5 separate regions of the Homo sapiens genome follow, and all the other regions are linked to region 4. Evidence: fine-mapped expression QTL. A gene starts in region 4. Each other region holds a variant in brackets. All regions are shown on one strand. Distances are from middle to middle. Region 1 overlaps FYCO1 (FYVE and coiled-coil domain autophagy adaptor 1). Region 2 has its middle 4.2 kb from the start of CCR9. Region 3 has its middle 62 kb from the start of CCR1. Region 4 holds the start of FYCO1 (FYVE and coiled-coil domain autophagy adaptor 1). Region 5 has its middle 12 kb from the start of SLC6A20.

Region 1 (6,296 bases), 81 kb before region 4:
GACAGGGGGCCCTAGCTGGGCCAGCCCCTAGGCAGGGGAAGAGGAACTCTGGCCATATTGTGGCTTCCTCCCAGGCCCTCCCCGCTCATGGCTTTATGCCGTTCAGCTTTGCTGGTAAGTAGGTCACCCCTTTGGTGAATGCAGAAAGACATCAACAACTGTGTAATGACTCCAGCATATAGGAATTGGGCATTTGGTTTTTTACTGGGAATTTGAGATGGCCGTAAGATGATGTGAATGTCTTTTTAGAAATTAGTTTTCGCATTTTAAAAGTTAAACTGGCACCTACTAAAAATACTTCAAACGACATAGAAAAGTATAAAGAGAAAAGTAAAAGCATCTTATTCCTGCCACCAACTCCAAAGCCCCACCAGCTCCATCTGCCAAGGCAGCCACTGCTGTGTCCAGCGTCTTTGTCAGGAAATGTCGCATGGGTGTGAATAGTGTTCGTCACATAGTCTCCCAGGGTGCCGTCATATACTGCTTCAATCCAACCCACTTTGAACAAATCCTTTCCTGTTTTTTGCTATCACAGACATTGTGGCCATGAAGATTGTTGCGTGTGTTTTTGCGTACTTGTATGAGTGTATCTGGAGGAGAAGGTGGGTGTTTTACTGAAGATGAAAATTGAGGTGGAAATATGTGCAAGAAGGGAAGATTATAGACTCTTTGGTAGAAATATTACAAAAATGGTCCCAATTCTCTACCCCTCACTGTCCCTGTGCCCTTTATAAAGTGACTTTGCAGTTCCTCCCATCCAGAGGAGTCCCTTTTCCCACACCTGGAATCTGGGCTGGCCTGTGACTTGCTCTGACCAACAGAACACTGTTGAAATGATGTGCCAGGTCTGAGACTGGGCTTTGCGAAGCTCGGGCACTTTTACTCACTCTCTTGGAAACCTGCTCAGTGGCCATCTGAATAAGCCCAGGCTATCCTGTTGGGGTCAGGGAGACCACATGGAGTACAGCCAAGTTGTCTGGCCAAGACCATCCTAGCCTAGCCAGCCTTTCTTTGACCAACTGACCACAGATGTAGGAGTCAACCCCAGCCACGATTAGCCAATGAGCAGCCAACCCTCAGACATGTGGGAGCACAGCCTCAATGCGTAGCTGACCACGGGCAGACAAGGGAGTGAGCCCACCAAGAGTCCAGAGCCCCCAGTCAACCTGCATATTCGTGAGCAAAATAAATCTTCAGTGATTTAAGCCACGGTTTTGAGGTTATCCAACTTCAAATAACGCAGAATAATGCAGCTTGGTCTGACAACAGGTAACTGATACAGCCTTTTGTATTAACAATCATAATAAAGGTCTGAAGGTCAAGGGCTGCCATAGCAAATCCTGGTTTATGGAAAAGCTTTTTATAAGTCATCAGATAATCTAAATTCAAGTAAAATGAGAATGGTTTAGAGAAAACCACTCCTACAGCTGTCTCAGCATAACGCAGTAGCAGTAATATGTTCTGTAAATGGTTCAGACTTACCATCTTCCCTGGGTCTTGGTTCCTCATCTGTAAAAGTGGGCTGACTTACAGCAAGAGCCTAGAAAATTATACAATTACACAAATTAAACAATGCTACTATTGTTACTATTAACAAACCAGTGCTGCAATGAGCTGATCTTTCTCTTGTTTTTCATGAGGACCTGCCACAACCTAAAGATCCTTAACTTTTTTTTTTTTTTGGCCTCATCCACACCTTTGACAATCTGACAAAGCCTATAGCCCCTTTCTCAGAATGCTTTAAAATGCAAACAATAAAATAGAATTACAAACCAATTAAATTGAAACACAATTCTCCAAATATTAAAGCAGATATATGAACTAGTAATATATGTGTCTTTTTACTAATGCATTACATAAAATCTATCAGATCTAATGACAACCTTCATTTCCGAGTGGAGATAAACATAAATGATACTTTGAGAGTCTGCAGAAATTGTCATGTAATACAAAAATATCTGCCATTTCTACTGGTGACAAAGTGACAGGTCTAGCTAGTACTAGTGTGGCATGTTGTCTCTAGTCATAATTGAAGGAAGACTTAAATTTTAATTAGTAGTTAGGGTAAAGATGCCATTTTTTCCCCCACCCATTTTCAAAGACCTTTGATTCTGTGTACCGACCAGCTTAGGAACTCCCTCCTAAACTGACCTCCCCAACGCATACCCCCTGGATACTTTCTCCATTTCTTAAAATTTGGACATGTATGGAACTCTTCTGGATTTGGGGAAGGGGATGTTTTTCCACTCAGAAATGATCTGCCAGTTGGCACCAGAACCCTTGAATAAAAATATAAGCCATAAAAAAGTTATGGTTGTAAACTATTTTACCCTTAGAATAGTTTTATACCAGGGGATTCATTTAGAAACATCCTCCTCTCCAAGACTGAAATTTCCATCATTGCGCCCTAGTGCTTGGGCTAATGGATTTGAGGAAGACGGCCTGGTTCCAAGATTCAAGGATCACAGGTAGAGTTAAATTAGGAGACAGATCAATTAGTTCATTTCCTCCTTTCCTCAAATTCTAATCAAAACAGTGGTGACACAGCAACGTTCACCAGGACCACCTGCTCCAGCATCACCTGGAGGACCTGTGAATGGACCAGACCTGATGAACCAGAATTGGAATGGGTGGTGCCCATGGATCTGCATTTTTTTTTTTTTTTTTGAGACAGGGTCTCACTCTGTCCCCCAGGCTGGAGTGCAGTGGGGCAATCACAGTTGCAGCCTCAAACTCCCAGGCTTAAGGGATTCTGCCACCTCAGCCTCCCCAGTGGCTGGGACTAGAGGCGCCTGGCTAATATTTGAATTTTTTTTGGTAGAGACGGGGTCTCCCTATGTTATGCAGGTTGGCCTTGAACTCCTGGCCTCAAGTGATCCTCCTGCCTCGGCCACCCAAAATGCTGGGATTATAGGCATGAGCCACCACACCTGGCTGGATCTGCATTTTAATATGCCTTCAGGTAACTAAAGCAAGAGAA[C/T]CTTCTCCTAAGAATCTCTCTGCAACTTCCTTTTATTTACTGACACCTAATAAATGAACAGTTGACTCTGGAGCAAAACTGAGCCCTGGGTGAGTCTTGGGCTTTTCCTGATGGCTCAATACCTGAAACTTTCATAACCAAAGAAGATGGGGGCCTGATCCAGGACCAGTTCTGGTCTCCTTGTCCTTCTTCCACTGGTCACCTTCAGGGCATGAATGTGTGGTCCTCTTTCTGAGACCACCCAACAGCTGGGTGGCGTCCCTGCTGGTGCAGAGGAGCTGCCTCTTCCAAGACCTTGGGTTCCACATAGGAACCCTGTCGCTCATTCACAAGCGTCGTGGGAGGACTGGACTGAGGCTGCTGCCCCTGCTGCTTGTGAAAGCATGCAGGGCCCTGTTTGTGAAAGCTTGCAGGGCCCTGAAGCCACCTCTGAGGCAGAGGAACAAACCGGCTTGTCTTTCCACATCAGCAGTCACTGCCTTTGGTGTCTGTTCCCTCAATGGTCCAGGCTTCCTTACATTAAAGTGCTGCCTCCACCAGATGCATGGGGCAGCTTCAGCCACACCGACACCGTCATTTCTCACTGCCCCTTTCTTCCAATGAGAAAGATGGCTTCTGCTAAGCAGCCCTGGGTCCAGCCCTCCTTGCAGCCTTTAGGGAGGCCCTTTCTGTTACCCCTCTTTTCTCATCACTGCTTTGCTCTCCGATCTTTTATCCCCGCACCGCCCACCTCCGCCCCACCCTTCTCCCTCACCAGCTTTCCTCTCTCAAGCCAGGGAGAAGACAGCACCTGCCCCACTGACCTGGAAGACGGACGTTTTGGCCTCCCAGAAATGGCTTCCTTCTCTCCTCCGAGGCTCAGTCAGAGTCGGCCTTGGGAGCAGAAAGCGGGGGAGACCTCCTGAAATCATTTTTTCTGTGATGATTCTATGGACCCACAGGCCCGAAGACAGACCTGTCCTAGAAACAAGGACTTCCTTTTGGTAAGGACACTCATGCATCTCAGGTTTTGTTCATTTTTTAGCTAAAAAAGACTTAATTCATTCAAGGCTTTAGATGGGGCTGTCAACTCTTAGATAACCTCAGTGCCAGCATGGTGGGAGGTGTGAGGAAACCACACTAGTCTCCGACCTCCCCAGAGCTTGCAGGATGGGGGCGGGAGGAGGGGACACACATCAAAGCCCAGAGGTTGGCCATCACCCTTCTGCTCGCATTACCATCCTTCTTCAGAAAACAGCGGGTGTGGGAAAAGTAAAAGGCTGACCTTTCCCTCACCCCTAACCCACTTTGAATGTCTTTCATAATTGCTATGCTTTCCCCCCGCCCGGCTTTTGAGGCTTCAGCTTCAACTGCTGTCTCAAAAAAAGTCCGTTTTCTCATCTTGGGCTACTGGTTTCACCATCTGTTTGCTCTTCAGATGTGTGTGGGTGGCAAGAGGAGATTTTTCCCACGCGTCTTCAAACTGAAAGGGCTGACCTTGCTGTGAGGAGCCTTCTGAGTCACCCAGGAGTCTCTGCATCCTCAGCCCTCACCCGGCAGAGTGGCAGGGAGGGGCGGGGCACCTCTTTGTGCCACAGAGCCTGTGAACACTGAACTGGGCCCGGATTACCTGGAATCAAGCGTGGGGCTTGGAAACCCTCCAGCAAAGACTTGGGTCATCTTGAGTTATTCTGCAGTTTAGCAGGGTGGGGTGAGGTGGAATGGAGGATTTTGACCTGGAGGTCCCCAGATCCCAGCCCCAGATGCACAGCACACACATATATGTATGTCTCAACTGTTTCTTGTTCTAGCCCCCAGCCCATGAGGCCCCCAAGCCTCAGGAAGGACTGTTGTATTAACAAAGAAACTCTCTGGCTCTGTCATTTGGGGCAGGTGGAGTAACTATCTGCCATTACTGCAATCTGGTTACTAGATAGATACTTGATCTGAGGGTACCTTTTTATTTTTTTGAGACAGGGCCTCACTCTGTCACTCGTGGAGTGGCATGATCTTGGCTCACTGCAGCCTCTACTGAGTTGGGACTATAGACATGCACTACCACACCTGGCTAATTAAAGAAAAAAAAATGTAGAGACGGGGTCTCACTGTGTTGCCCAGGTGGTCTTGAACCCCTGGGCTCAAGCAATCCTCCTGCCTTGGACTCCCAAAGTGTTGGGATTACAGGCGTGAGCCACTGCGCCCAGCCCAAGGGCATCTTTGACATAAGAGGGGGTGCAGGGGGTGGGACTGAGTGACCAGCTATCATTGCCTGTATCTCCTCCTGCAGGCCCACCCTTTCCCTCCTCTGCCACCGGAGTGTTTCAGGAGCCTCTATTCCTGGCAGAGTTAGTCGCCAGTGGGAATGCTGATGACTTTTTGGCGACCCAGGGCACTGGGACTGACCCGAGAGGTCAATTCAGTATTTTTTGAGTCCCTTCCTGCCTGGCATGTTGCTCGATGCTGCGGTGGGGAGAGAAGGGAGGAGGGAGATGAAGATAAAGATGAAGGATTCACTGTCTTTTATCCTTGGGAGAGAACCAGAGTTACAGAAAATGTGACTTCTTCCATGGAGTAACAGATTAAAGAAGAGGCCAAACGAAAGTCTGGCAGCAGGAGAGGGCTGGCGGAGGAAGGGCGGTGAAGGGGTGGTGTGGGGAGGTGTTCTTTTGAGGTGCAGAGCACTGCAGGGACAGAGCCCTGGTCATCCCTGGAGTGGGGGTGTGAGGTGAGTGTGGGTGGGCTGCCCAGCCTGAGCTCAGTCCAACATCCAGCAGTGACCAGGGCATGCCCCTCTGGGCCTCTGTCCAGGCTCTTTGCTGACCCAGCCAGAGAAAGGTATGCGGGAATGGGAGGGCTGACTTCTTCCTCTGCCAGCCATCTCAGCCTGGCAGTCTTGCCCAGCTTTGTACCTCATATTGACCAATCATGGTTTTAGGCCATCCATGATGCTTCTCCCCAGCCCCATTGTTCCGGTAAACTCAGAAGTCTGCTCTTTGCTCAACATGCTCTGTGGGTGCCCTGGGAGATCTGGACATTTGAGCTGAGGCTAGAAGCCCATAGGGCACAACAGCATGGATTGAAAGACAGGCTGTCTCAGGCAGGTCTAAACACCACCCTCACAGCAGGCCAGGAAGCAGCCAGGTGCCAGGCCACCTGGAAACTTCCCAGAACATCTGCTGGCTCAAGTCCTCCTGAAAAGCCACCATAAAAGATGCTCTATTTCCCAGCAGCACAGCTCAACCCCAACTCAGCTCTGTATAACTTCGTGGTGCACTTTATGTCCCAAAAAAATGAGAGACAAATGTCTAAATGTCATAGTGTTTACTTTATTTAAATC
Region 2 (6,296 bases), 110 kb before region 4:
TGGAAGGAACCAAGATGTCCTTCAGCAGGTGAATGGATAAATAAACTGTGACACATCCAGACAATAGTTTATGTTATTCAACACTAAAAAGAAATGAGCTAGCAAGCCATGAAAAGACATGGAGGAGCCTTAAATCCATATCAGTAAGTGAGAGAAGCCCATCTGAAAAGGCTATATACTGTATGATTCCAACAAATACGGCATTCCGGAAAAGAAAAACTGGAGACAGTAAAAAGGTCAGTGGTTGCCAGGAGTAAGGTGGAAGAGAGGGACGAATAGGTGGAGTACAGAGGATCCTTAGGGCAATGAAACTATTCTGTATGTTATTTTAATGGTGGATACATGTCATACATTTGTCCAAACCCACAGAGTGTTCAATACAAAGAGTGAAACCTAAAGTAAACTACTTTGGGTGATAGTGATGTATGAGTGTAGATGAACTGATTATAACAAATGTGCCACTCTGATGCAGGATGTTGATAGTGGGAAGGTGGCACATGTGCTGCGGGAGCGGGTATATAGGAACTCTCTGTACCTTCTGCACAATTTTGCTGTGAACCTAAAACTGCTCTAAAAAACAAAGCCTATTTAAAAAACCCAACATTATTAACTGGAATTAATGATAAAAATATGTATTTAAAAAAACCCATAAGCACTTCTCAGTGAATAATGATGGTCATCACTAGAAATGTTCCCTGGGTGACGTTTAGTGTGTGTGTCCTCCTTCCATCAGGGGTGGCAGGAGGGAGGGATGTAAGCACCCTGAATCTACCATGATGCCTCCGTACAGGCAGAGGTCCAGAGAAGGGACAGTGACAGGCAGAGCTGAGGGTGGATCCTGCGGTGGCCTAGGCCAGCCCAGCCAAGGCAAGGCTCTCATTTAGACGTTTGGTTCTGGTGCCTGCAGAACCAAAGGTTTTGCTGTTTTTTTGTTGTTTCCCATGCAGCAATCAGTGATCTGTTAAAAATGGAAATCAGGCTAGGCGAGGTAGCTCAGGCCTGCAATCCCAGCACTTTGGGAGGCCGAGGTAGGCGGATCACGAGGTCAGGAGTTTGAAACCAGCCTGGCCCACATGCTAAAACCCCATCTCTACTAAAAATACAAAAATTAGCTGGGCGTGGTGATGGGCACCTGTAATCCCAGCTACTCAGGAAGCTGAGACAGGAGAATCACTTGAACCCAGGAGGTGGAGGTTGCAGTGAGCCGAGATCACGCCACTGCACTCCAGCCTGGGCGACAGAGCAAGACTCCATCTCAAAAAAAAAGGAAATCGGATCGTGTTATCACCTATATAAGTCCTTTGGGTAGCTTTCTGTACACCTGGCATCAGGTGAAAACTACTGGCCCAGCCTCAAAGCCCAACATGCTCGTGCCCCTCCAAATTATCTGGCCGCCCCTCACTGCAAGCTGTCCTCCTGCCTGTTGGTCTTTCTCATCCTTGGACACGTCAAATTCTTCCTGCCAACTGTTCCCTCTGCTGATAATGGCTGCTCCAATCTTCACATTGATGGGAACTTCTTGTCACTCAGGCCTTAAGTGTCACTACTGTAGTGGGCCTTTCCCAGACCATCCAGTGTGAGGGCCCCCTTCCCACGCCACTCCCTCCATCACCTCTGTCTGTACTGATTCTCTGCATGGCATTTGTCGCTATTTAATGTGCTCTGTCTTGCTGACTGCTACATCCAACCTCTTAGAACAGTGACAGCAAATAGTAGGAGCTTGACAAGTACATGTTGAATGAAGGATTCCAATGAGATCTTCCAATGAGATAATGCGTGTGAGGGCAGAAGGGATGATTTTTATCATTAATAGATGAGACAAATAAAAATAAAAAATCCTCTGACTGGTCTCATGACTCAGGTGCTGCAAGCACAAAACCTCAGGAGTTGAGGATGACACATATTTCCCTTATAAACAGCTTGTATTCTGCAGCAGCTTGGCAGCCACACCACTGAACTCTTGACCTCCCCTCTGAGCTGCAGTGGGGAATATCTAACGACCTGCTAGACACCTTCACTTCAACACCTCAGCCATATCACATCCAGTGCTACATGCATCACTATCTGCCAAAACCAACATTTCCTCCCACACACTTGCTCAGTTAAAGATACCCAAGTCTTCCCACAGCCTCCAACTGGTTTTGTTCTCTTCCTCCTGCAACATCTCATCATTTGGCAGCTCCTGAGGGGCACTTGGCCATGTCTGTCCTGTCCCTCCCATTCCTGCTGCTGCTGCAGGGTGCGGGCCCCCTCCTCCTCTCTCTCTCTCACTCTCTGAGAATTGCCTCCTAGCTGACACCGCGACCTTCAAGGGCTATTCATGGTAACTGAATTTAGCAAAAATGACTACTTTCTCCTCATTCCTGTCCTTTAAGGGTTTTGATTACTAACTGCGACACACGAAGAATGTGTAAAAATACTTTTAAGGGACCTTGCCCTTAAAAGTATCTACAGGTATTCTAGAAAACCAGTATAGCTAAAGCCTGCCCTGGCTTGAGTGCTACTGGGGAAGGAAGAGCTCAGCCTCACACCCTTCACCCCCTTGCAGAAGGGAGTGAGTCTGCCACAGGCCAGCTGCCCTGGCTTGCATCATAATGTGAGCTATCTAAGGCTAGAGCCGAGGTAGAAATATTAGCTGCTGAATAGCAGGTTGGTCTGGACCTGTACAATCCACTAGGGTGGCCACTGGCCATGTTGGCTGTTTACATTTCCATTTAAGCTAATTCCAATTAAATAACGATTTTAAAAAGATCACACTAACCACAGTGTCATGTTCACTAGCTATATGTGGCCACACACTGGACAGATAGCTATAGAATATTTCCACATTGCAGAAAGTGCTATTAGATGGCTCTATTCTAGATCCTCAAGACTTATATCAGGTGAATTTTTTGCATTAATTTAGTCAGAAGATGTTTAATATTCTCCTAGAATGTGCTGCTGGGCTTCAACCATGGCCAGTATCCACATAGTCCCTTTCCTCATGGATTAGTGGGGAAAAAAGGGTCCTTGCAGACTTTATTCCTTGGAAATTTGGACCTAGGACTCTTTTTACCTGCACTGATCATAATGTCACCACCAACTACTAACTGCCTCCAGACACTTTGGCTTTCCAAGTCAAGATAAGGCGTTAATCAATGAAAAGTAGAAAGACAGCATTGTCCTCTTCCAAAGACCCCAATATGCTTTTGAAATATGACTTTCCCAGTATGTACAGGAGGCTAAGGAAGGAGGAGAACAAGATTACAAATCTATAGTAGTTTTCAATTTGGGGAACCTAAAAAGTAGAGGACTGAAGTAAAATTAATTTTTTCTGTGCCAGAGACTGTGCTAGATACTTGGTATATTGGAATGAACAAGAGGTAACCGACTTGATCATATATTGTAATGAACAGACTCAGCACTCCTGTTGGCCCCTGCAACAAAGTCAGCTTGGGTCTTTTCTCTGTTACAGGTATCAGCGTTGTGGATTGC[T/C]GTTTCTAGTCCACAGTTATTCCTGAAATGCTCTTCAGTTGCCAGGTACAGCACTTGGTCCATAACCCAAAGGGGATACTATTATTATTATTATTATTATTATTATTATTATTATTAACATTTTTTTAAAAATTTCTTTTCATAGAATGCATTTTTGTATTAGAGATTCCTCTAGTGGGAAAATAACAGTTTATTACTTATAGTTCTATATTTGTGGACAGATCGTTTTAGAACAAGTAAAACACATTTGAGAATGAAGTCTCAGTTTAGAATTTGTAATATTTTGATACTTCTACAAGGGGGACCTTGCCCTTAAACAGAACTTTGCTATACTCAGAAGCATTCCAAGCTTTTCTTCCTAGGATTTAGAAATTCATAATGTGAGATATCAGCATTTCCTAATTTTCAACTTCCCCTAGAATATGTAACCATCAGTAGCTGGTGTCTACTGAATAGAGAGGGAAGTTTTTGAAAATTAAACACGGTCTCATTTTCTGCAAAGTTTTTATTCATGAATTAACAGTATTTCTCTTTGCCCATTATTCCCAAGGCAAGTACAGAAGAAATTTGATCATGTAGTAATAGTAATAAAGCTGGATTCTCTTTAAGAGATTGATAAATTCAAAGGCAAAAGCTCATATATCATGTTGAGTTATATGTGAGTCTTATAAGAAGCTGGGAGGCAACCCCGTTAACTCACCAGAATACAGACCTCAGTCTCACAATTTCTTGGACATAATTCTTCTCAAACCTTTTCCTCAAAGCTTAAATTCTGAAAATAGTCTGGTGATTAAGAGAAGATGGCTGTCCACCAATGGATTTATCTGTTATTTCTTCCTTATTGTGAGTTGAATGGCGTGACAAAGTGAAGGCAAAGAGGCATGCATTAATTCTTCAAAGTATAAGTCAAAAAGGTCAGCGCTTCTACAATGTGGCAGTATCTTTGCAGATGCCCACATCATGATAGTTGAAAGAGCAAAGCCCAGAAAAGGCTAAAGCTGAAAGTGCCAAAAGGCCTGCCTTGGCAGCTTTCTGCAATGCATCCCCATGAACACAGTCAGGAACAACTTGTCCAAGGCCCCAAGACCATGAAGAGTGAGAGTTGCAGCCACGGAGTAGGCCATCACAGAGCAAGGATTCAGTTAAGCAGCTAGAAGCAGGCCCAGGAGCAAAACACTGACAATCCTCTCACTAGTCCAGTGGACAGATGCAGCCTTGGAACCAGAAAGGTGGCTCAGTGACAAATGAATGTGCTGCACTCCACGCCATTCTGGGGTAGGTTGGGTCCTGAAGAAATCCTGAGATCTGAGCAGGTCTGACAACTGGGGCTCGCAGGAACAGAGCTCAGCCTCCTTGGGCACCACAGAGGGCACTCAGCCTCTAGAGAACCTCCATCTCTTCCCTCAGAGTATGCTTATAGTGCCCTGTCCTCCAGAACTCACCTTTGGCAGGGTGAGAATGCAAGAGAGAAATAGCCCTTAGAAAAGGGGACCAGCAACCTTTTATAGTCACCCAGCTCTGAATTCTAGTTGCAAAGAAAGAAACACAGCAAAGAAAACAAGAGGATAGGGCTTTTTTCAGGAATGGACCTAAACTAGATTGCAGCAAAGGGAGTCACATTTGCACAAGCTCCTTTGAGAAAGCGGAAGTTCTCTCTATGACTTCCTTGCGTCTTCCCTTCTCCCCAGCCTCATGATCCTCTCTGCATCCCAGGAGAGGGCATGTGAGTGCTCTAGAGCAGCTCTTCCAGACCTGGATGGAAGAACCTACCTAAGCTTCCCCACCTCACCTGGACCACGGGGACCCGTGCAGAGGAGGGAATCTTCCCACACCGGTGCATTTACCCCTTCTCCTCTTCCCTGACGGCCAGCCTCACCTTCCTTCCTCCCCCGAGACTCACTCCAACGTCTAGGGGCAAGCAGTGTCTACCTTGTATGCTCTTACCTGATGAGGAAACAGCCTGAGTCAAGAGAAGGGAGAAGCACAGGCTTTTCCTCACCCATGGCAATTGCAATAGTGCGTGTCTCACCTCGCTGCAAGCTTTCCAAGGACGCAATCAAACACGGGGGAGAAACAAATTCAGCCAAGAAAGTCAAGTAAGGGAACATCTTCTTCCCTCTAGCACCAGTTCCTTTTGTGTCTTTATTTGCCAAGTGAGAGGGAGGAGTGAGATGCCAGAGCATCTGGCTGGTTCTCAGCTATGTATAGTTTCAGACACCATTTATTTGCAATGAGCGCCCGCCGAGGGAAGGGAATTTCACGGCTCCCTCGCACCGCCGTTCCTTAAGGCTGATGAATCAGACACCTCTTTCGTTCTTACTGTGCATGCCCTCTACCTTTCAGATGACCTATTTGTTGGCCTTTTTCCATTTAGACAATAAACCCAAGTGCACCTTCTGCATCCCTTTGCTCTACGGGAACTGAGGGTGATGAAGGGGACATGCGCCTGGGAGTACCACGCCATGACAGAGCGGCATTGAGTCCTCGGGACAATCAATACACCAAGAGGTGGAAATTAACATCCACAAGAGTGTAGTCATGATTTTCCCCCAGAACAAATATATAAAAGGGATCTTTGTCATAACAATGACAGGAAATCATTAATCACATCAGGATTGAAGTCCCCACTGTAGCAGTGGATGGGAAGACTTCGTCTGTGATCTTCATTAAAAATGCAATATTTTGTATATTTAGCTTTTTTCAAAGTTTTACCAAAACACCTGTAATTAATACAATTTATTGTATTATCTTTGTTAATGTATCTGATGTGCAAAACCTTACTAGATTTGCCCCAATTTGAAGGTGTCTGTGGCTTTCCAGCA
Region 3 (6,296 bases), 150 kb after region 4:
CTCCTTTTCTCACATAATCGGCGTTCTTGTAAATATCCTGGGCAAGGCCAAAATCACAAATCTTCACCACATTGTTCTCAGATAAAAGAATGTTTCTTGCTGCCAGGTCCCAATGAATGCACTTTCTGGAAGACAGAAACTTCATGCCTCTGGCCACTTGAAAACTGTAAGAAATCAGATCTTCCATAGTGATGGGCTCCTGGTAGAAACCATCAGAATCCTCCTCTTCCTCAACATCACTCAGATTTTTATCTTCCTGAAACTTGGAGCTCCCAAAGCTCTCGCTGCTGGTGATGCTATCTAGTTTTGGTTTCTTGCCTTGTTCCAGGCCTGGCTCCATTTTTTCTTTCTTACGCTCCATGTGTGATGCCACATCCTTGTCGAGAAAAAATAAGTCATATTTGCTCTTGAGGTAGTTGGATAGATTTCCATATTTGCAATATTCAACAATCACCATCAGAGGCCCTTTGTTTGCTGATCTGACCCCAGTCTGAAGGAAGCAAGAGGGTTGAGAAGGAAGTCCAGCTGCACCGTGGGGCCCATGTGGTGCCCTGAAGGCCTCCTCTCCCCTGCCCTGCATTTCCACTGCATGCCCGGGCTGGGCACACAACCCCTTATCTTCTTTTTTGTGTTTTATTCTACACATAAGACACTACTACAGTAGAACACATCTGTAAAAATAAACAAATGCATATTCATATGTCAGAGGCACATGTCCAGAACTGTTGTTGATGGCAGCATGCAATCAAAAGCGCAGAGGCCTTTGCTTCCTACTCCATCCTGCAGCCTTCCCTGTGGGGCAGGGGCGCTGTGCCAAAGGGGGCTCCGGGCAGCCCTACCTCCCTCCACTGCTTTGGATTTGGTCCACATTGAGCTTTCACTGTCCCTGCTTCCTCTTGGCAGAGATTCTTCCTCTTTTCCTTCACTCTGCAGGATCTGAAAGGACACAGACTCCTTTCCAAAGAATGCTGTGTATTGAAATGCAGAGAAACAGAAAGTAGATCACAAAATTAACTCTGTGGAAGTGGTTACAGGACATCTCAAAAGGTCTTGGCATCAGCTGTCCCTGGTCTCCACTCAGTTCTGCCCTCCTAGGTCTCCTTTTGTTCTTTCTCAATGAGCCCCACAGAAGTCCTCTTCCTTTTTCCCTTTTGCACACCCATGTACACATCCATGATCACACCCCAGGCTCCATGACCCATGACCCACCTCTGTGCCCACTACTGCCTGCAGTGCTGCCCAGGCCAGGGAACGTTGCACTACTTTGATCTCTATGGTATTGATCTTTGGCTTCCACAAAAGAAGGGAAGCGGGCACAGCTCAACAATGCCAATTAAATTTTTAGTTCTCTTACAGAGATTATTTTATAATTGATTACAGAACAATGTTCTATGTAGCATTTACTGCTTAGTCAATTTTAAGGAAGAAAACACTGGTTAGGATTGCTAATGCGAAGGTGAATGGCAATGGTGAAGGTTCAAATGGATCTTGACAGACTGGGTCACTGAACTGAAAATAACAAGATGAAATTTAAGGAGAAAGAAAGTAAATCTGGGAATGCTCTGATACTTTAAAAAATAGCCAAATACAAAAATGAGATGGTAAGCGCTGTTGATGGATATCAGTTCAGGGGAAACAACTATTTTGTGACTAGGTCATAAGTAAAAAAGGCCTACTTACAACTAGGCTAATAAGAGCCCATCTTGAGACACTTGCTAGAAAAATGATTGTGAAGAGCTGATTATTACCAGGCTTAGAAAACAAATGTAGTCTACTCTCCTACCATCTACCCAGCACTTGGGAAGAATCAAAGACTCACTATGGATAGTTTATCTTCGGGTTGAATGAACAACTGGTTTTGGAATATATACAATGATCACCACACATATAATTCAGCAGCCCCATTACACTAAGTAACGGTCAACTCTTTTAGATGTGGAGGGTTAGCAATAAGGTCTCAATTCTGATTCTGGTCTTTTTCCAGATGCTTTTCTGTCTTCAGTATCTGCTGTTCAGTTCTTAGGTCTTGGGCTACTCAGAAGTTGGCTGACTCAGAATAAGGACACCCTGTCCTTGTGAACAAATGGAAGAAAGTGAGGTCCTAGTTACTGAAGGGGAATGTGAAAGGAGCTGGATGACCTTCTGTTGACCTATTGCAGAGGGTATTCCTGCACTGGAATTGACATTCTGCAGAGTCTTTTAGTCTCCAAAGGGGTCAAATGTGGAACCAAAAAATTGAGAGCATTTTGACTCTAGTCTTGTAACATCTCGCTCAACAGTTGCCAAACAATTCTGAAATAAAATTTTAAATGTTAAAAAAATCAGATGCTGTGAGGACATCATGGTATCAAGCATCTGGATGGAAAAAGAGGAGTAAAGTACTGACTCCTAATAGATTGGATGGCTAGCTCTAGGAAGGATGGAAATTGTGACCATGGTGTCTGTATTATTTTCCCATTGCTGCTGTAACAAATTAACAAAAATTTAGTGGCTTAAATTAGTGCAAATGTATTCTCTTACAGTTGTGGAGGCCAGAAGTTTGAAATGAACCTTATGGGACTAAAATCAAGGTGTTGGGAGGGCTGGCTCCTTCTGGATACTCCAGAGGAAAATCTATTCTTTGTCTCTTTCAACTTTTCTTGGCTAATGGCATTCCTTTGCTTGTGGCTGCATCACTCCCATCTCTACTTTTGTTGTCACACTGCCTTTTCTTCGTTAGTATTCAGATCTCTCTCTACCTTCTTCTTATATTCTTGTGATTATGTTTAAGGCTTAGCAGGATAATCTCCCCATCTCAAGATCCTTGACTTAATCACAC[A/G]TGCAAGGCCTTTTTTGCTATATAAGTTCACAGGTTCCAGGATTAGAGCCTGGGTATCCTTGGGGGCAAGTATTCAGCCTCCCATGGTATCTTTATAAGAGGCCTCTTTCCTTTAAGCAGAAGGTGCTCATTCTTGGAAGCACTTGTGGTTGCCTTTCATCTTGAGGGTGGCAGGAGTCTCTAGCGCCACAGTTGTACACTACAGTATCTTTGGGGGCCAGCAGGGGTACATGTGTAGTTACAGACAACAAAAAGAAGTGGTGCCTACGGCTATATAAGGAGTACAGGGCATCCAAATATGATGGTATTAACATTAAAACAACTCACATCACTGCTGCTAGTCAGATACCATCAGTGGACTAGAGTTTAATAGTTTCTTATTTTGTACACATTCACTTTGTGTTTTTTATTGTACTGAAACTCCTCAAAAAGTCCAGAAAAGAAATTCCTTAAAGAATATTAACCTACATTTCTTTCAATTGAGAGAAGCCAGGGCTGGCCTCTAAAATCTACATACTCATAAGCTCAGATGGAAACAAAAATCAAATTCCAAATACAGGAAATGAGGTTTTCCACTAAAAGATCTTCAGTAATTCTTCCATCATTCAGTCATTTACATGTTTAAAAAACCCCACGAGTTCCTTATTAATCAGCCGCAAAATAACTTTAGTCATATTTGACCAAGCACATATCAGACCATCTAGAAGGTGTTCACCTTTTGCAGAGTGAGTTCTGTATTGGGGAGTTCCGGAGGAAGTAAGAGAGAGTTGTTGCCCTCTGCAAAAGCCATAATATGACAAGAGGATGCAGTTTTTAAAAATCATACGCATGTACCCTTAGCATTTTGGGCTTTACCAATGGGCATGAACAAGTGTGCTCCTGTTGACATTCATGTCCATAATTTGATGACTTTGAGCTCCTGCCTACTTGTCAAAAAGCTACTAAATCTTCTACCAAGTCTTATTTCACAAGATTTCTGGCACTTCCAGGGAGGTTGCAGGTGTCCATTCATCAGGCCTGGGCTTTGTTCCCCGACACAACCAGCAGAGCAGTAGTCCCCAGACACAACAGCTCTCAGAGCTGCCACTCCAAGCCAAACCTCCACTCCTGGGGGTAGAAATTTGCAGGGCCCAGTGAGGGTACGAAAAGCCCTGATTTGTCCACTGGCATGAGTGAGGGAAGGAGGGTTGGATATGCATGCGTGTCGGTTTAGTCATTCAGCAATGTCTGCGGTGACGGGGACAGCTGCCTGCTGGCGTCCTTGACACCTTCCTGGATCATGGTGTAACAACAAAACCAATGAAAATCAACCCCCTTGAGGACATGTTGGCCAAATGGTACAAACTTTCAGTTAAGAGTAAGTTCTGGGGACCTAACATACAGTATGGTGATGATCATTAGTAATACTGTATTGTAGCAGTTCCCAACCTTTCTGGCACCAGGGACCAGTTTCATGGAAGACAAGTTTTCCACAGACCCAGTGTGGCGGGAACGGTTTTGGGATGAAACTGTTTCACCTCAGATATCAGGCATTAGATTCTCATAAGGAGTGTGCAACCTAGATCCCTCATATGCACAGTTCACGATAGGGTTAAAGCTCCTATGAGAATCTAATGCTGCCGCTGATCTGACAGGAGGCAGAGTTCAGGTGGTAATGCTGGCTTTCCCTGCTGCTCACCTCTTGCTGTGCGGCCCAGTTCCTAACAGGGCATGGACAAGTACTGGTCCATGGTCCAGGGGCTGGGGACCCTTGCTGTATTGTATACTTGAAATTCACTAACAGTGTCGATCTTAAGTGTTCCCACCACAGTGATAAGTATGTGAGATGATGCATATGTTGATTAGCTTGATTGTGGTAATCATTCACAATGCTTATGTGTATCAAAACATCATGTTGTATGCCTTAAATATAAACAATTTTTTTTTATCAATCGTCCTTCAAAAATCTGCTTCAGGAAAAACAGAGTATTTTACGGTGAAGAATCTTGAAAAATACTACCTCAGCCAGATGACCAGTTAACATGAACAGGCATGAGGGATGTTGATTGTCTGTGCCCTTGATATCATGTGATGAGATAGGGACTCTGCTTTGTGGTCTTCGTCCCCAAAACCCATGCCTCCAGTCTAATTATGAGAAAAACATTAGACAAATCCCACTTGAAGGACATGCTACAAAATACCTGACCAGCACTACCAAAACTGTCAAGTTCACCAATAGAAGGAAAGTCTGAGAAACTGTCACAGCCAAGAAGAGCTGAAGGAGACACAACTACTAAATGTAATGTGGCATCCTGGACATAGAGAAAGGAGTGCTAGGTAAGTTGAAATGAAGTAAAAAATGTTAAGGGCAGCCAGAGAGAAAGGTCGGGTTACCCACAAAGGGAAGCCCATCAGACTAGCAGCGGATCTCTCAGCAGAAACTCTACAAGCCAGAAGAGAGTGGGGGCCAATATTCAACATTCTTAAAAAAAAGAATTTTCAACCCAGAATTTCATATCCAGCCAAACTAAGCTTCATAAGTGAAGGAGAAATAAAATACTTTACAGACAAGCAAATGCTGAGAGATTTTGTCACCACCAGGCCTGCCCTAAAAGAGCTCCTAAAAGAAGCACTAAACATGGAAAGGAACAACCGGTACCAGCCACTGCAAAATCATGCCAAATTGTAAAGACCATCGAGGCTAGGAAGAAACTGCATCAACTAACGAGCAAAATAACCAACTAATATCATAATGACAGGATAAAATTCACACATAACAATATTAACTTTAAATGTAAATTGGCTAAATGCTCCAATTAAAAGACAGAGACTGGCAAATTGGATAAAGAGTCAAGACCCATCAGTGTGCTGTATTCAGGAAACCCATCTCACGTGCAGAGACACACATAGGCTCAAAATAAAAGGATGGAGGAAGATCTACCAAGCAAATGGAAGGGGTTGCAATCCTAGTCTCTGATAAAACAGACTTTAAACCAACAAAGATCAAAGGAGACAAAGAAGGCCATTACATAATGGTAAAGGGATCAATTCAACAAGAAGAGCTAACTATCCTAAATATATATGCACCCAATACAGGAGCACCCAGATTCATAAAGCAAGTCCTGAGTGACCTACAAAGAGACTTAGACTCCCACACAATAATAATGGGAGACTTTAACACCCCACTGTCAACATTAGACAGATCAACGAGACAGAAAGTCAACAAGGATACCCAGGAATTGAACTCAGCTCTGCACCAAGTGGCCCTAATAGACATCTACAGAACTCTCCACTCCAAATCAACAGAATATACATTTTTTTCAGCACCACACCACACCTATTCCAAAATTGACCACATAGTTGGAAGTAAAGCTCTCCTCAGCAAATGTAAAAGAACAGAAATTATAACAAACTGTCTCTCAGACCACAGTGCAATCAAACTAGAACTCAGGATTAAGAAACTCACTCAAAACCACTCAACTACATGGAAACTGAACAA
Region 4 (5,784 bases):
CATCAGAACCACACTGATGTACACATCCTCCAAATGGCATCCGGCCTAATGAGAAACAGGCCCTTGGTGCCTTTCAAATGCCACAGAGATCCAAGTGAACAGGAAGGACCACTGGAAGTTACTAAAATCAACAGGTTGACTGGCTCCCATGTGAGAAAAGGGATAAAACTGCTCTTGCCTAACTGAGCACAGCTTCTGCCATCATCCTCTTCTCAAAGCCATGGGGCCCATTTGCTCCAAGGCAATGGCTCTTATTATGGGGGTAGTACAGACATTTCAGCCATTTTTGTGATGTATCAACGAACAGCAAGAAGGTAAACAGCATTTCCATAGGTAGAACCACAGAAACATTCCAATTCCCACCCTATTGATTTATTTAATTGCTCAGATAGAGGCTCTTATACCAATAAAGACTTCTTATTTTCTTGAAACTGGCATTGAGCTCACAAACAAAATACTGTTTATCTTTTGACTAAGACAAGAACATAGCAGTCATGACGTGAGCAGATGTTGCCCTGACCATAATGGACTCATCTGTGCTCACAAGTTGCCTCTGTAATCACAGGCACCAGTTAATGACCCTTACCTGCTGCCTAGGGCTGCTTGCAGTGAACGTGGTTCCTAAATCTAGGTGCCTACCAGTGATTTCCACCATAAGACCACAGCTAGACAACACACTTCCTCTGCCTCATGTTTAAAGACATTCTAGTCTTGAGTCACCAAAGCTGTGTCTTTGGAATCTTCAGTAAACAAAAGTTACCTATCAGCTAAACATCTCCCCTAAAGGGAAGCAGGGTGGGTGGGGGTGAGGGGGCTGCCATTTCTTGCGTACCTACTTTGTATTCTTGAGTCAGCAGTCCATAGCCTTGGTGACCAATATGGGTCAAAGCTACCAGCTGCTCTGATCTTGCTCTGTTATGGGTGATTCCTCTCATCACAAACATCTATGGGGGCCATCCCCCTCAAAAAGGACCAGGTTAAAAACTTGGCTCCTGAAATTATACTGGTGCTCCAAACCCAGCCCCAAGGGGCAAAGGTCATCGGAACAACAGCTAAAGGATCACTGCCTGAGACTGTTACCAATCTCTAAAGTAACTGCAAAAAAAAAAAAAAATCAAAGTAAAATATTAAGAATTGAGTATACGGATATTCACCATACAATCCTTTCAGTGATTCTGTATGTTTATTTTTCTAATAAAATATTAAAAACAATTTAAAAAGTAAATGAAGTGCTACACAAAGATAGTCACTTTGAACATAAACAGATAAACTCTATTTCCTAAAGCAAGAGCCTTTAGGAGAGATCCTATTAATCAAAGGAGGCTGAGATCCATCACTGTGACAATTAGCTCTTATTTTCAGGGTGATAATAACCACGGTGCACAACTAGTATGGGGCATTCAATGCTTTCAGAACAGTGGTTGTCACAGAAGGGAGGGTCAAGTGGAGCTCACTCAACAGGGGTCCACTTCAGAAGGTGGGAACTACTGAAAGCAGAAAACCTTGGCATGATAGCTCCAGCTCCCCACCCCTCCCCCACACCAGCCCCCAACACCCTCCAGCCGCATTAGGCAGATGGCAGGGGAATTAAGCTTGCAGCCTGAGACCACAAGGCCTGCACGGGCAGGAGAACCAGTGAGCAGATTAAGCCCTGGATCCTCTGCCCCGCAAAAGCCCCTGACCCATTTCTCTGTCGGGAAAGGAAACTGCTGTGGTAAGACAAGCAGAGGGGCTGAGAGGCTCTGGCCAACACAGGCAGTTTCAACAAGTGTTCTATTTTTTTTTCTGGAGAGGACACCCAATGGGAACAGTGAAGAGTGACAGGGACATCAGAGAATACATGTGCTTTAACAGGGGGCCACGCGGTTAACGTGTCAACCACATGTGCTTTTCTTACAAAAAATAAAATCCCGCCATCCTCCCCCCTCCCCGCCCCACCCCCGCCAGGTTTCAACAGCACGGACTCCAGTCCAGTGCAGTGCCGCCACACCAGAGACAACAGGTGTTTCGGGAAAAGACCCCTGGGGGCTAGCTCGAGACCCTGCGCATGGGCACAAGGGGCAGTGGATAGTGAATAGGTCTTGGCCAAAGGATGGGCCAGGAAGAAAGAAGCTTCTTCCCCTCCTGGGAAGAGGGCAGAGATCCGAGCACCAGCGGAGTCTTGCAAAGTGAAGGTCTGGGCTGTCCCGGCCCAACTGGGCCAGAGACTAAACTTCCTAAAGACCACGCAGGCAGGAACTCCGGGGCCTGCCCCATCCTGCGCTAAGACATTCAGGCTTGTTCTGAGACGCCGCATGGTGGGCTCCTTTCCTTTGCGGGCCCTCCGCCCTCCGGGGTCTTGGAACTGGTGTTTGGGGTCTGTCTTTCTAACCGACCAACAGAGGCAGGCTGGGTGCCTGGGCCGGCTTCCACCTGCCCGAGGTGCTTCCCGGCCCGCTGGGCAAGGACGGGGGCGCTCGGGCAGGGTCTGAGGGAGACCTGGGATGGGCGGGGACTGTAAGGGCAACAGGTGACAAGCCGCGCCCCGAGCGAAGCTCTCGCCTCAGGGATCGTGAGCGACCCAGGTGCCCCCAGAGTCCAGCCGGTCTTCCGCGGCACTTACGCGCTCGTGGGTCCACCGCCGGGCAGAACCGAAACTTTCTGGGGCCAAGCGGAAGAGGACGGGAACGCGGTGCTGACGGCCATGACGCGCACACCAAGAGGGTGGCGGGGGCGGACTACAACTCCCGGCGTGCTCCCCGGGGCTGAGGCCTGCAACTCCCATCGGACTCCCGGGGCTCCGACTACAACTCCCGGCGACTCCGCAGGGCGGGGTTTAAGTGCTCCCACCGCCCAGTCCCCGGACCGACTGTCCCACCCGCGACCCATGCTGGCCCCAGGTTAACGCCTGCAACCCCGGAGGGCCACAAATCAAAGGTCTGGCATCTTGACAACAACGCTGTTCTTGTGTGGCTAAGGAGCACTCCAAAGGTAGCTAGTTCGAGTTGAATCGTGCACGTGCTGTAAGTGTGAAATACACCTAGGTACCAAAGAGTCCGAAGAATGTTAACTAGCTCATTAATTTTTAGTGATTGCATGTTAAAATGATAATATTTTGATATATTGGGAAATAGAAAAACATGTATTGGTGGGCCTAATTTCCCATCTTTTAATCCCCCTTATTTCTTAATATCAGGGTCTTACTTAAAATTAGTGCTCAAAAACTACGTGTTTATGAACTACCACCCCTAACTTTGGCCCCATCCTCAGCCCAACTTCTATTTATAAGATGGGTGTTGCAAAGCACTGTGGAACTGAATACGATAGAACAAAATGCATTCAATCAGTGTCCGCTATGGGCACAGTAGAAAAGAGGAACACTACACGGGGACTTTGGCTTCTAACTGACTGCATTCCTTAGCTGTGGCTGGCTATCCTTTACTCTCTGCCCTAGTTCTCATCATTTAAGCCAGAAACAGCTCTCTCCCTTGTAGGACCTAGCTCGTGGTATCCAGTCAGGAACCGTGGTGGCCCAACATTCTAAACTGAGGAAGCAGGGTGTTGTCTGGGTACAATAATACAGAAAGAAAATCAATTTCTTAGTCGATTTTAGGCTATGACATCTCATTAGCCATCTAATTTTATAAATTAGATGTAGCTAAAACAGTGAGTTGGATGGATGGAGTAGTCAGTTTGGGGGTGGGGTTGGGAGGAGGTACATGAATAGAAGTGATTTCCACTCTTGTTAACAGAAAGGAGAACAGAAAGAAAACGGGGGGAGTGAGAAGATGACAAAGAGAAAAGTAATCAATGTAGTGGTCTAAGAGAAATCATTGCTCCAACCACTGTCTGAACAGCTTCATGCAATATTAAGGATGAGAGAGATTTTAATGTTGGTCATCTGGTCCAATATCCTTGTTTGAAACTGTGTGGGGAAAAAAAAACCTCCCTCAAACCGTATTTTTCCTCTACTCTTACACAACAGCAATCATCAACACAGGAGAATAATTTGGTGACCAGATGTGTGTGGGGTTTTCCCCACACACTGAGCAGTGGACCGCACCTGGGTGTCCTCCAATTCAATTCCGACACTATCTACCTGGAGTATCAGATCCCACAAGTGGAGGGCTCAGTCCCCAAGACTGCCTCCTCACCTTTAAACACCAGTTGTAAGTCTAGGCCTCCAGAATTTTGGAATGACTGGCTTCAAGTTGAGTTCCCACGACACCCTCTTTGGGTTCAGCTAATTTGCTAAAGTGGTTCATAGAACTCAGAGAAACACATTTACTGGTCTATTATAAAGGATACTGCAATGGATGCAGATAAAGAGACACGTAGGATGAGGTGTGGAGGAAGGGGCGTGGGGCTTCCATGCCTTCCCTGGATGCACCACTCTTCAGTAACCTCCACGTGTTCAGCTATCCCGAAGCTCCCCGAATCCAGTCCTCTTGGGCTTTTATGGAAGCTTCGTGATGTCAGCATTGCTTCCCCCAGGGTATAGGGGAGGACCCTCTCTTGGGAGGGTCTTAAGACCTATAATCAGAAAGGCGGGGGAAGCGGCTGGGCACGGTGGCTCACGCCTGTAATCCCAGCTCACGCCTTGGGAGGCCGAGGTGGGCGGATCACCTGAGGTCGGGAGTTTGAGACCAGCCTGACCAACATGGAGAAACCCCATCTCTATTAAAAATACAAAATTAGCCGGGCGTGGTGGCACATGCCTATAATCCCAGCTTCTAGGGAGGCTGAGGCAGGAGAATCGCTTGAACCCGGGAGGCGGAGGTTGCGGTGAGCCAAGATCGAGCCATTGCACTCCAGCCTGGGCAACAAGAGCAAAACTCCATCTTAAAGAAAAAAAAAAAGAAAGAAAGGCGGGGGAAGATTAGAGTCCTGCCTTAAAGCAGGTGAAAGGAGGGCAGAAGGCCAGAGAGATTCGGTTTCCTGAAGCCTAACATACCTAACATAACAAAAGACTGTAACAAGGGCTATGGGAGTTATGAGCCAGGAACCATGGAAGAAAACCAAGATAGATAGATAGATAGATAGATAGATAGATAGATAGATAGATAGATAGACAGACAGATAGACAGACATCATAATACCACAGAAACTTAAACCCAAAAGGAGTTTGAAAAGAAAAGGAAAACAAACCTAATATTTATTGAGGACCTATATGCCAGTCCCTAGCCCCCCAGCAAAAAAACAAAAAACAACAACAAAAACCCATTCAGCATTATATTTAAAACTTGCAGCCACTTGGTGACATAATTAGTATTCATTATCATACTTTGAAGATGAGGAGATGAAGCTCAGAGAGGTTAAATGACTGTCCTGGTCCACCCACCTAATAAGTGGTGGAGAGTGGTGGAGGCTGGGGTAGAGCTGGGGGCTCCTGAGGGGTCTTCTGTCACCCAGCACACTGTCAGATACAGGGAAGGTTAACAAAATCACTACTGTTCAGGTAGTTTAACTTGGATTTCCTTTATAGATACAGCAGAGTATTTCAAACTATAATCTTTCAAACAAACATACAAACAAACGCAGCATATTCTTGTGTTCTGATGTGAATACACATTAAGAGATCAGATTCAAAATCACCAAATCCCCACACCCTCTCCTTACAGCCTTAACAAGTGGCAGAAGAGGAGACTATTCCTCACGGGAAGCTGACCGTGCCCACGGCCCTGAGGAGGGATGAGGCTCTTGGAATGATTGTTAAGGGCTTTTTATGTGCCAGGTGCCATGTTATGTGTATTCCACACCTGGTTTAGTTTTATCCTTATATCAGTCTCATGATACATAATTATC
Region 5 (6,296 bases), 190 kb before region 4:
TATCATTAGTGATAGAAAGGACATCTATCACTAGAAAGCTATAACATTTAAAAAAATTACAGTTCATAAAATAGCTTCAAAAAACAACAAATTGATTTCTTCATGGATTACATGGATAAATTGACATATCTACCATCATGATGGAGATATCTGTACTCATTTCTCCATTTTTGATAGATAAAGCAGAAAATAAAAAGAACAGGGAGTGAAAATTGATTAATACAGATTATTAGAATAATCTAAAATGGAACTTCTACAAATAGCAATAATAGAAATTAAAAATTAAGTGGATGGATTTAAAAGTGGATGAGACACAGCTAAGGAGAGATTTGATGAACGCAAAGATATGTCAGAAAAAATTATGTGGCACATTGCACAGAGAGATAAGAAACAAAAACCAAGAAAAAATTTAAGATATATAAATAAGCTATGTAGGACAATGAAGTCTAATATATGCTTACCTAGAATTCTGGAAGGAGAAGAGAGACTGGAACAGAGAAACACTTAAAGTACAACAGCTCAACATTTCCCACCACAGATTCATGAAGCCCAGTGAATCCTACGTAGGATAAAAAAATGTAATGCCCATCAAGATGCCTCATGATCATGCTCCAGAACATCAGGGTGAGGCCCTTAACCCACATCAAAGGTCTCACCGCAGAGGAGTGTTTAATTTGTGGCATTTTGAAAAAAATTAAAAGGTAGAACTTAAATCTTGGACAGGTAAAATAGCATATGACAGATGAGTGGTAAGAGCGGAAATGTTCTAAGGAGGTGAACAACTTTAGACTTTGTGAAAGTATGCAAAGCAAACATTTCAAGTTGTCCCCAGATTTCTTTTATAGCTTTCCAGGATAGAAAGAATTCATACACTGCATTTGGTTGTTATGAATACAGTTGCTTTTAGGACAGTTTTCCCACCTTTTTATTTTCATGACATTGACTTTCTAAAGAGACCAGGCTAACTGTTTGAATTGTATAATGTCTTACATTCAGGATTTGACTGATTATTTCATTGTGGGGTCATTTAATATGGCCTTTTCCCCCTGTAACTTGCAGAGAATGTGTTAATTTAGTCTTTATATGGCACATGCATGCACGCACATACACACACACACACACACATTATAACATCATATAGGCACTTAGGCAATTAACTGTATTTATTATTGATGGAATTTTGAATTTAAAAAGTGTATAGGCTAGGTGCAGTGACTCACGCCTATAATCCAGCACTTTGGGAGGCCGAGGTGGGAAGATCGCTTGAGGCCAGGAATTTGAGACCAGCCTGGGCAACACAGTGAGACCCTGTCTTTGCAGAAAATTAATTTTTAAAAAATTAGCTAGGCGTGGTGGTACACACCTGTAGTCCTAGCTACTTGGGAGGTTGAGGTGGGAGGATCACTTGAGCCCAGGAGTTGGAGGCTGTAATGAGCTATGAATGCGCCACTGCACTCCAGCCTGGGTGACACAGTAAGACCCCATCAAATAAACAAACAAATAAATAATAAAATAAAAAGTGTACAACCTTCCTGAGTTTACATTCACCAAATGGGGCGTAGTGCTGACCTTCTTCACTGAGCTATTCCAAGCAATTTAGAATATTTGGCAAATATAACAAGACGCAGAGAGCCTCCAGGATCGGAGGAACTGCTGGCCAGAGCTGAAGGCAACATGGCTGCACAGAACTGGCACTGGGTTGGCAGCTGCAGGCTACAGCTCTGTGTTGCTGTGGCTCTGTTTCTGGCTACACTTCTGTGAGATATGATAACAACTAATGGGACACAGATGACTTGAATGGCAGCCTTAAAAATAAAGGAAAATGAAAAGACATCTAAGACTTGAAAGCAAAGAAAGCCTAACTTAAAATAATATAGGGAAATACTAAAATAAATGTTTGAACTTGTACTTCACCAGTATATACTGGTAAAAACTCAGGGCTTCCTGAGCCTCTGAGTAAGGTTACACAATGATTTTAATATTCTATATCCTTTTGCCTGTATGCCTACATCCAAAGGACAACTGTGTCAACTGAGTAACCTGAGTGGATTTTCTGTGAATTGATGCCTATTGTTGTCTGAAGTAACTAATTTGAGTAAACAACACAAAGTGGGCGTCCTTTCTAAAGGAACAAGAGGAATGGAACAAAGAGGCATTTTTCAGGTCAGAGAGAACAGATGCAGAAATGAGCTTGTTTAGAAAACATTGTGGCTTCTCACCACGATCACTCAGCTGATCCCTTGCATTAAGGAAGATTCAGCCACGTGCTGTGAAAACAAGGGACTCAGAGAGCAGTGTGGAATCCTTCCTTCCTTTTTGTTGGTCTTGGCTGAATTTATTCCTTCACCTCAAATATTTTTGCTGGGAACAAGCAATCAATACCAACTAGAAGGCATAATCTGGTGGAGAAAAACAGATGGAGCACTGTGAAAATATTTTCAAGGGTCAGGGTACACCTGGGGCCATGCTGTCTCAATTAGTGACCCCCTAAGGAATTTCACTGTGTCCTGCTGTACTGTTTTGTACTTGCTCTTTTCATTTCATAACAGGAGAAGCCCTGTGAATCTTACTCTGCCAGAAAACACACATGCTTTATTTCACAAGCTCGGTGGTTCAAATTATATTTGATTTCTTTCCCTGCTCCATACTCCAAATGTGGCCTAGCGATGGGCAGCGTCGGCATCGCCAGGGCGCCTGTGGGAAATGCAGACTCTCAGGCCCCTCCCAGACCTCTAGAATCAGAACCTATTTTTAAAAAGACCCCCCCAAGGGATTTGCAGGCAGGTTAATGTCTCAGGAGCACACAGGGTTTTTAACCCTGGCTGCACATCAGGATCCTATCTATGGAGCTTTAAAATACAGATGCACGAGACTCCCTGAAAAACT[G/A]AGCTTGGCAGAGGAGTCTCTTGAATGTTTGGCTTCTAGAAGCTTCCATGGTGGCTGATGTGGGATACCCTTCTCCAGAAGAGGAAGATCCCTACCAACACTGCCGTGCCACTCATTATTAACATTTCTAGATCTTCTCCCCACTGGCTCCCCTCCAGTTTCCATATCCCCAATGTCCCTTGTTTAAGGTCCACCTCTGCCTGCTCTTTCCCACTGTTAAAATTTCTCTTCTAAAATACATTCAGAGTCAACAGGAAAAGGTCTTAAAGATAATTTATCACAGATGCAACAACAATTTCTTCTCATGAACTTGAGGAGCCCAAAATCTTTTCCCTGCTTGCCAAGGTGCTATATTGTCTGAAAATAGCTCAACTGCCTGGGAATGGTTTTGTGAAATCGATTCCCTACTGTATTATAGGGAATTAAGTGCTCCCAAAACTTCCCTTCTGACTTTGTTTCCATTTCCCAATATACAGCCTACCCAGAATGACGTGTTATCATTGTCTGCCATGTTTTGTTTCATTTATGCTGTACTTTTTTTTTGGGGGGTGGGGACGGGGCAGATGGAGTCTCACTCTGTCACCCAGGCTGGAGTGCACTGGTGTGATCTCAGCTCACTGCAACCTCCACCTCCTGGGTTCAAGCAATTTTCCTGCCTCAGTCTCCTGAGGAGCTGGGATTACAAGCACATGCCACCACGACTGGCTAATTTTTTGTATTTTTTAGTAGAGACAGGGCTTCACCATGTTGGCAAGGCTGGTCTCGAACTCCTGACCCCAGGTGTTCCATCTGCCTCAGTCTCCCAAAGTGCTTGGATTACAGGTGTGAGCCACCGCGCCTGGCCTATGCCGTACTTTTTGTGTTATAATACAGCATATATGGCATACAGCATACTATGGAAAATAAATACATGTATAAATAATAATTATAAGACAAGTGCTCTTGTAGCCATCACCCAGGTGGTTGAGACTTGGTATAGTGTGTGGCCAGTTTTCATAAATATTCTGTATTTGCACAAAGAGAAAAAAAATTGGATGCTGCAGTTTGTTTTATTTATTAGGCCAAATCTGCTATTGTATTGTTCCTATCTTCTATATCCTTATGATGATTTTGTGTCTGTGCATTCCATCAATCACTGAGAGAAGTGTTAAAATCTTCCATTATGATTGTGAATTTTTCTATTTTCTTTTAATTGTGTCAATTTTTACTTTATAGAATCTGAAGCCATTAAGGACAAACTTTAAATTGTTATATCTTCTTGGAGGGTTAAAATTTTAATCATATGGAATGACTCTATCTCTAGCAGTGTTAAATTCTCTATTTGGATAATTCAGATTGTTGTGTGTTTTCTGCATACACAATTATATCATCTGTGAATGAGTTTTTTTTCTGGCCTCATGCTTTGGTTTAGGCCTCCACCACTATATGTATCTGTCATTGCTCCAAAGTCTCCCTGTCATTGAAGCCTTAGTGACAGCCCTATGTAAAATGTCAACTACCACCCCAACATTGTTTCTCTCTTTCCTTCTTCATTGTATCCCTTGGGCACTATTTGGCATGTTATATGTGTTTCTTGTTTATCAAGCCCGATTTGCTCATTTATTTAAGAGAGGTATCGAGTCTATGTGCCAGACCCTGTTCTGGATATGGGGGATGCAGCAATAAACAAGACAACCACAGATCTCAGCCCCCTCGGAGGATACATTCTGGTGGCGAGGCAGAAAATAGACAAACACCATGCTTCTACTTCAGTAAGGCCTGTCTTGACCACCATATTTTAAGAAAAACATCCCTTCTCTTGATTCTACTTTCCTTTCTACCTACCTTATGCCCCCCCTTTTTTTTTTCGCTTTACTGTTTTATAGCCCAGCCAATCAAGAGATGTCGATGCTTACTTTGTCTCCAAGTTTCTCTTGTTACTTCTCACAGTCACCTCAGCTAGGCCCCTCAGCAGTCCAACAAAACTATCTTGTCAAGGACACCAGTGACCCCCCACATAGCTAAATCCAACAGTCAGCTGTCCCTTTCCTGGACCTGCCAGCTGCATGCCACCCAGGTAATGATTCTTTCCTGCTGATGTGATTTGCCCAGCCAGCATCCAGGGAGACGCTCTCTTGGTCTTCCTCTCACTGGCCCCTGCTGTTCCATCTCTTTTGCTGATGTCTCCTCTTCCCTGATTCCTTGGGGTTGGAGCACCTAGGGCTTCTCACTGACACTCACCTCCTTGGTGTGCCTACCTCTTTAATGGTTTAAAAGCCCTCTCCACCGATAACTCCCAATGTTGTATCTCTAGTCCAGACCACACTTCAGAGGTCTAGACTTGTATGTCTGGTGCCTCCCAACATCCCCATTTGGGTGTCTGAGAGGCATTTCATGGTTGTCTAAAAGAGGATTTCTGGCCAGACGTAGTGGCTCATGCCTGTAATCCCAGCACTTTGGGAGGCCGAGGCAGGTGGATCACCTGAGGTCAGGAGTTTGAGACCAGCCTGGCCAACATGGCAAAACCCCGTCGCTACTAAAAATACAAAAATTAGCTGGGCATGGTGGCGGGCACCTGTAAAAATTAGCTGGGCATGGTGGAAGGCACCTGTAATCCCAGCTACTAGGGAGGTTGAGGCAGGATAATCACTTGAACCCAGGAGAAGAAGGTTGCAGTGAGCCAAAATCGTGCCACTGCGCTCCAGCCTGGGCGACAGAGCAAGACTCTGTCTCAAAAAAAAAAAAAAAAAAAAAAAAGAAAGAGAATTTCTTATCTTTGCCCACTTCCCTTCCTAAAGCCAGCTCCCTATCTCTGTTGACACCAAGCCTAGCCTAGCAGTTGCTCAGCCCCAAACCCTTGAAGTCATCCTGAGTCCTATCTCTCATCTCCTTTCAATCTGTGCTGATAGTCTATTAGTTTTCCCTTCAAAATATATCCAGAACCTAACTCTCTGACACTGCTGATGGGAGTGTAAATTGGACACCTGGAAAATTTGGGGGGCAGTGTCTACTAATATTGAACATTCATATATGCTGTGATCCAGCAATGACACTCCTAGATGTACATACCTACACCAAAAGATCCACACTAGACGTTTATATTAGCATTCTCTGTATTAGCCACAGACTAGCAAAACTCCAAATGTCCAGCAACAGTATGATGGATAAATTATGGAATATTGCCACTATACAGCAATGAGAACAAAAAAAAATTGCTACATGCAACAATAGGGATGACACTCACAAGCACAGTGTTGAAAGAAGCTGGACACAACAGAGTCTATGCTGTATGATTTCACGTACATAAAGTTCAAAAAGGAAGTCAGGAGAGTGGTTACCTTTGGAAGGAGATGGTGCCTGGGGGCCAGCACAGGAGGCCTCTAGGGGTGCAGATAATGAGTGATTCTTCATCTGGGTACCTTAGTGCTTTG

The links. PIP is the estimated chance that this variant, and not a neighbour inherited with it, causes the effect.
Region 1: its variant is the best candidate, but not a certain one, in a credible set for the expression of FYCO1 in tibial artery (GTEx, PIP 0.88).
Region 2: its variant is the best candidate, but not a certain one, in a credible set for the expression of FYCO1 in sigmoid colon (GTEx, PIP 0.77).
Region 3: its variant is the best candidate, but not a certain one, in a credible set for the expression of FYCO1 in whole blood (INTERVAL, PIP 0.56).
Region 5: its variant is the best candidate, but not a certain one, in a credible set for the expression of FYCO1 in whole blood (INTERVAL, PIP 0.67).

What each region holds. Positions count from the first base shown.
Region 1 is chr3:45,911,638-45,917,933 of GRCh38, forward strand. FYCO1 (FYVE and coiled-coil domain autophagy adaptor 1) reads right to left here. Exons shown (of 18, transcript NM_024513.4): 18 at 6,266-6,296. It also overlaps a transcript of LZTFL1 not described here. Among named protein-coding and RNA genes, the nearest start is that of CCR9, 28 kb to the left of the region's middle. RefSeq lists enhancers at 3,632-4,831, 4,271-4,540. The variant C/T (reference allele first, on the strand shown) is at 2,981.
Region 2 is chr3:45,879,245-45,885,540 of GRCh38, forward strand. It overlaps a transcript of LZTFL1 not described here and the pseudogene SDHDP4. Among named protein-coding and RNA genes, the nearest start is that of CCR9, 4.2 kb to the right of the region's middle. RefSeq lists a silencer at 1,045-1,201. The variant T/C (reference allele first, on the strand shown) is at 3,475.
Region 3 is chr3:46,143,212-46,149,507 of GRCh38, forward strand. It overlaps the pseudogene FLT1P1. Among named protein-coding and RNA genes, the nearest start is that of CCR1, 62 kb to the right of the region's middle. The variant A/G (reference allele first, on the strand shown) is at 2,819.
Region 4 is chr3:45,993,120-45,998,903 of GRCh38, forward strand. It overlaps FYCO1 (FYVE and coiled-coil domain autophagy adaptor 1), which reads right to left and starts at 2,705. Exons shown (of 18, transcript NM_024513.4): 1 at 2,603-2,705. It overlaps LOC105377063 (a long non-coding RNA gene), which reads left to right and starts at 2,784. Exons shown (of 3, transcript XR_940799.3): 1 at 2,784-2,970. RefSeq lists enhancers at 1-458, 2,504-3,003, 2,504-2,553, 2,574-2,733.
Region 5 is chr3:45,805,622-45,811,917 of GRCh38, forward strand. No RefSeq gene overlaps it. Among named protein-coding and RNA genes, the nearest start is that of SLC6A20, 12 kb to the left of the region's middle. The variant G/A (reference allele first, on the strand shown) is at 2,887.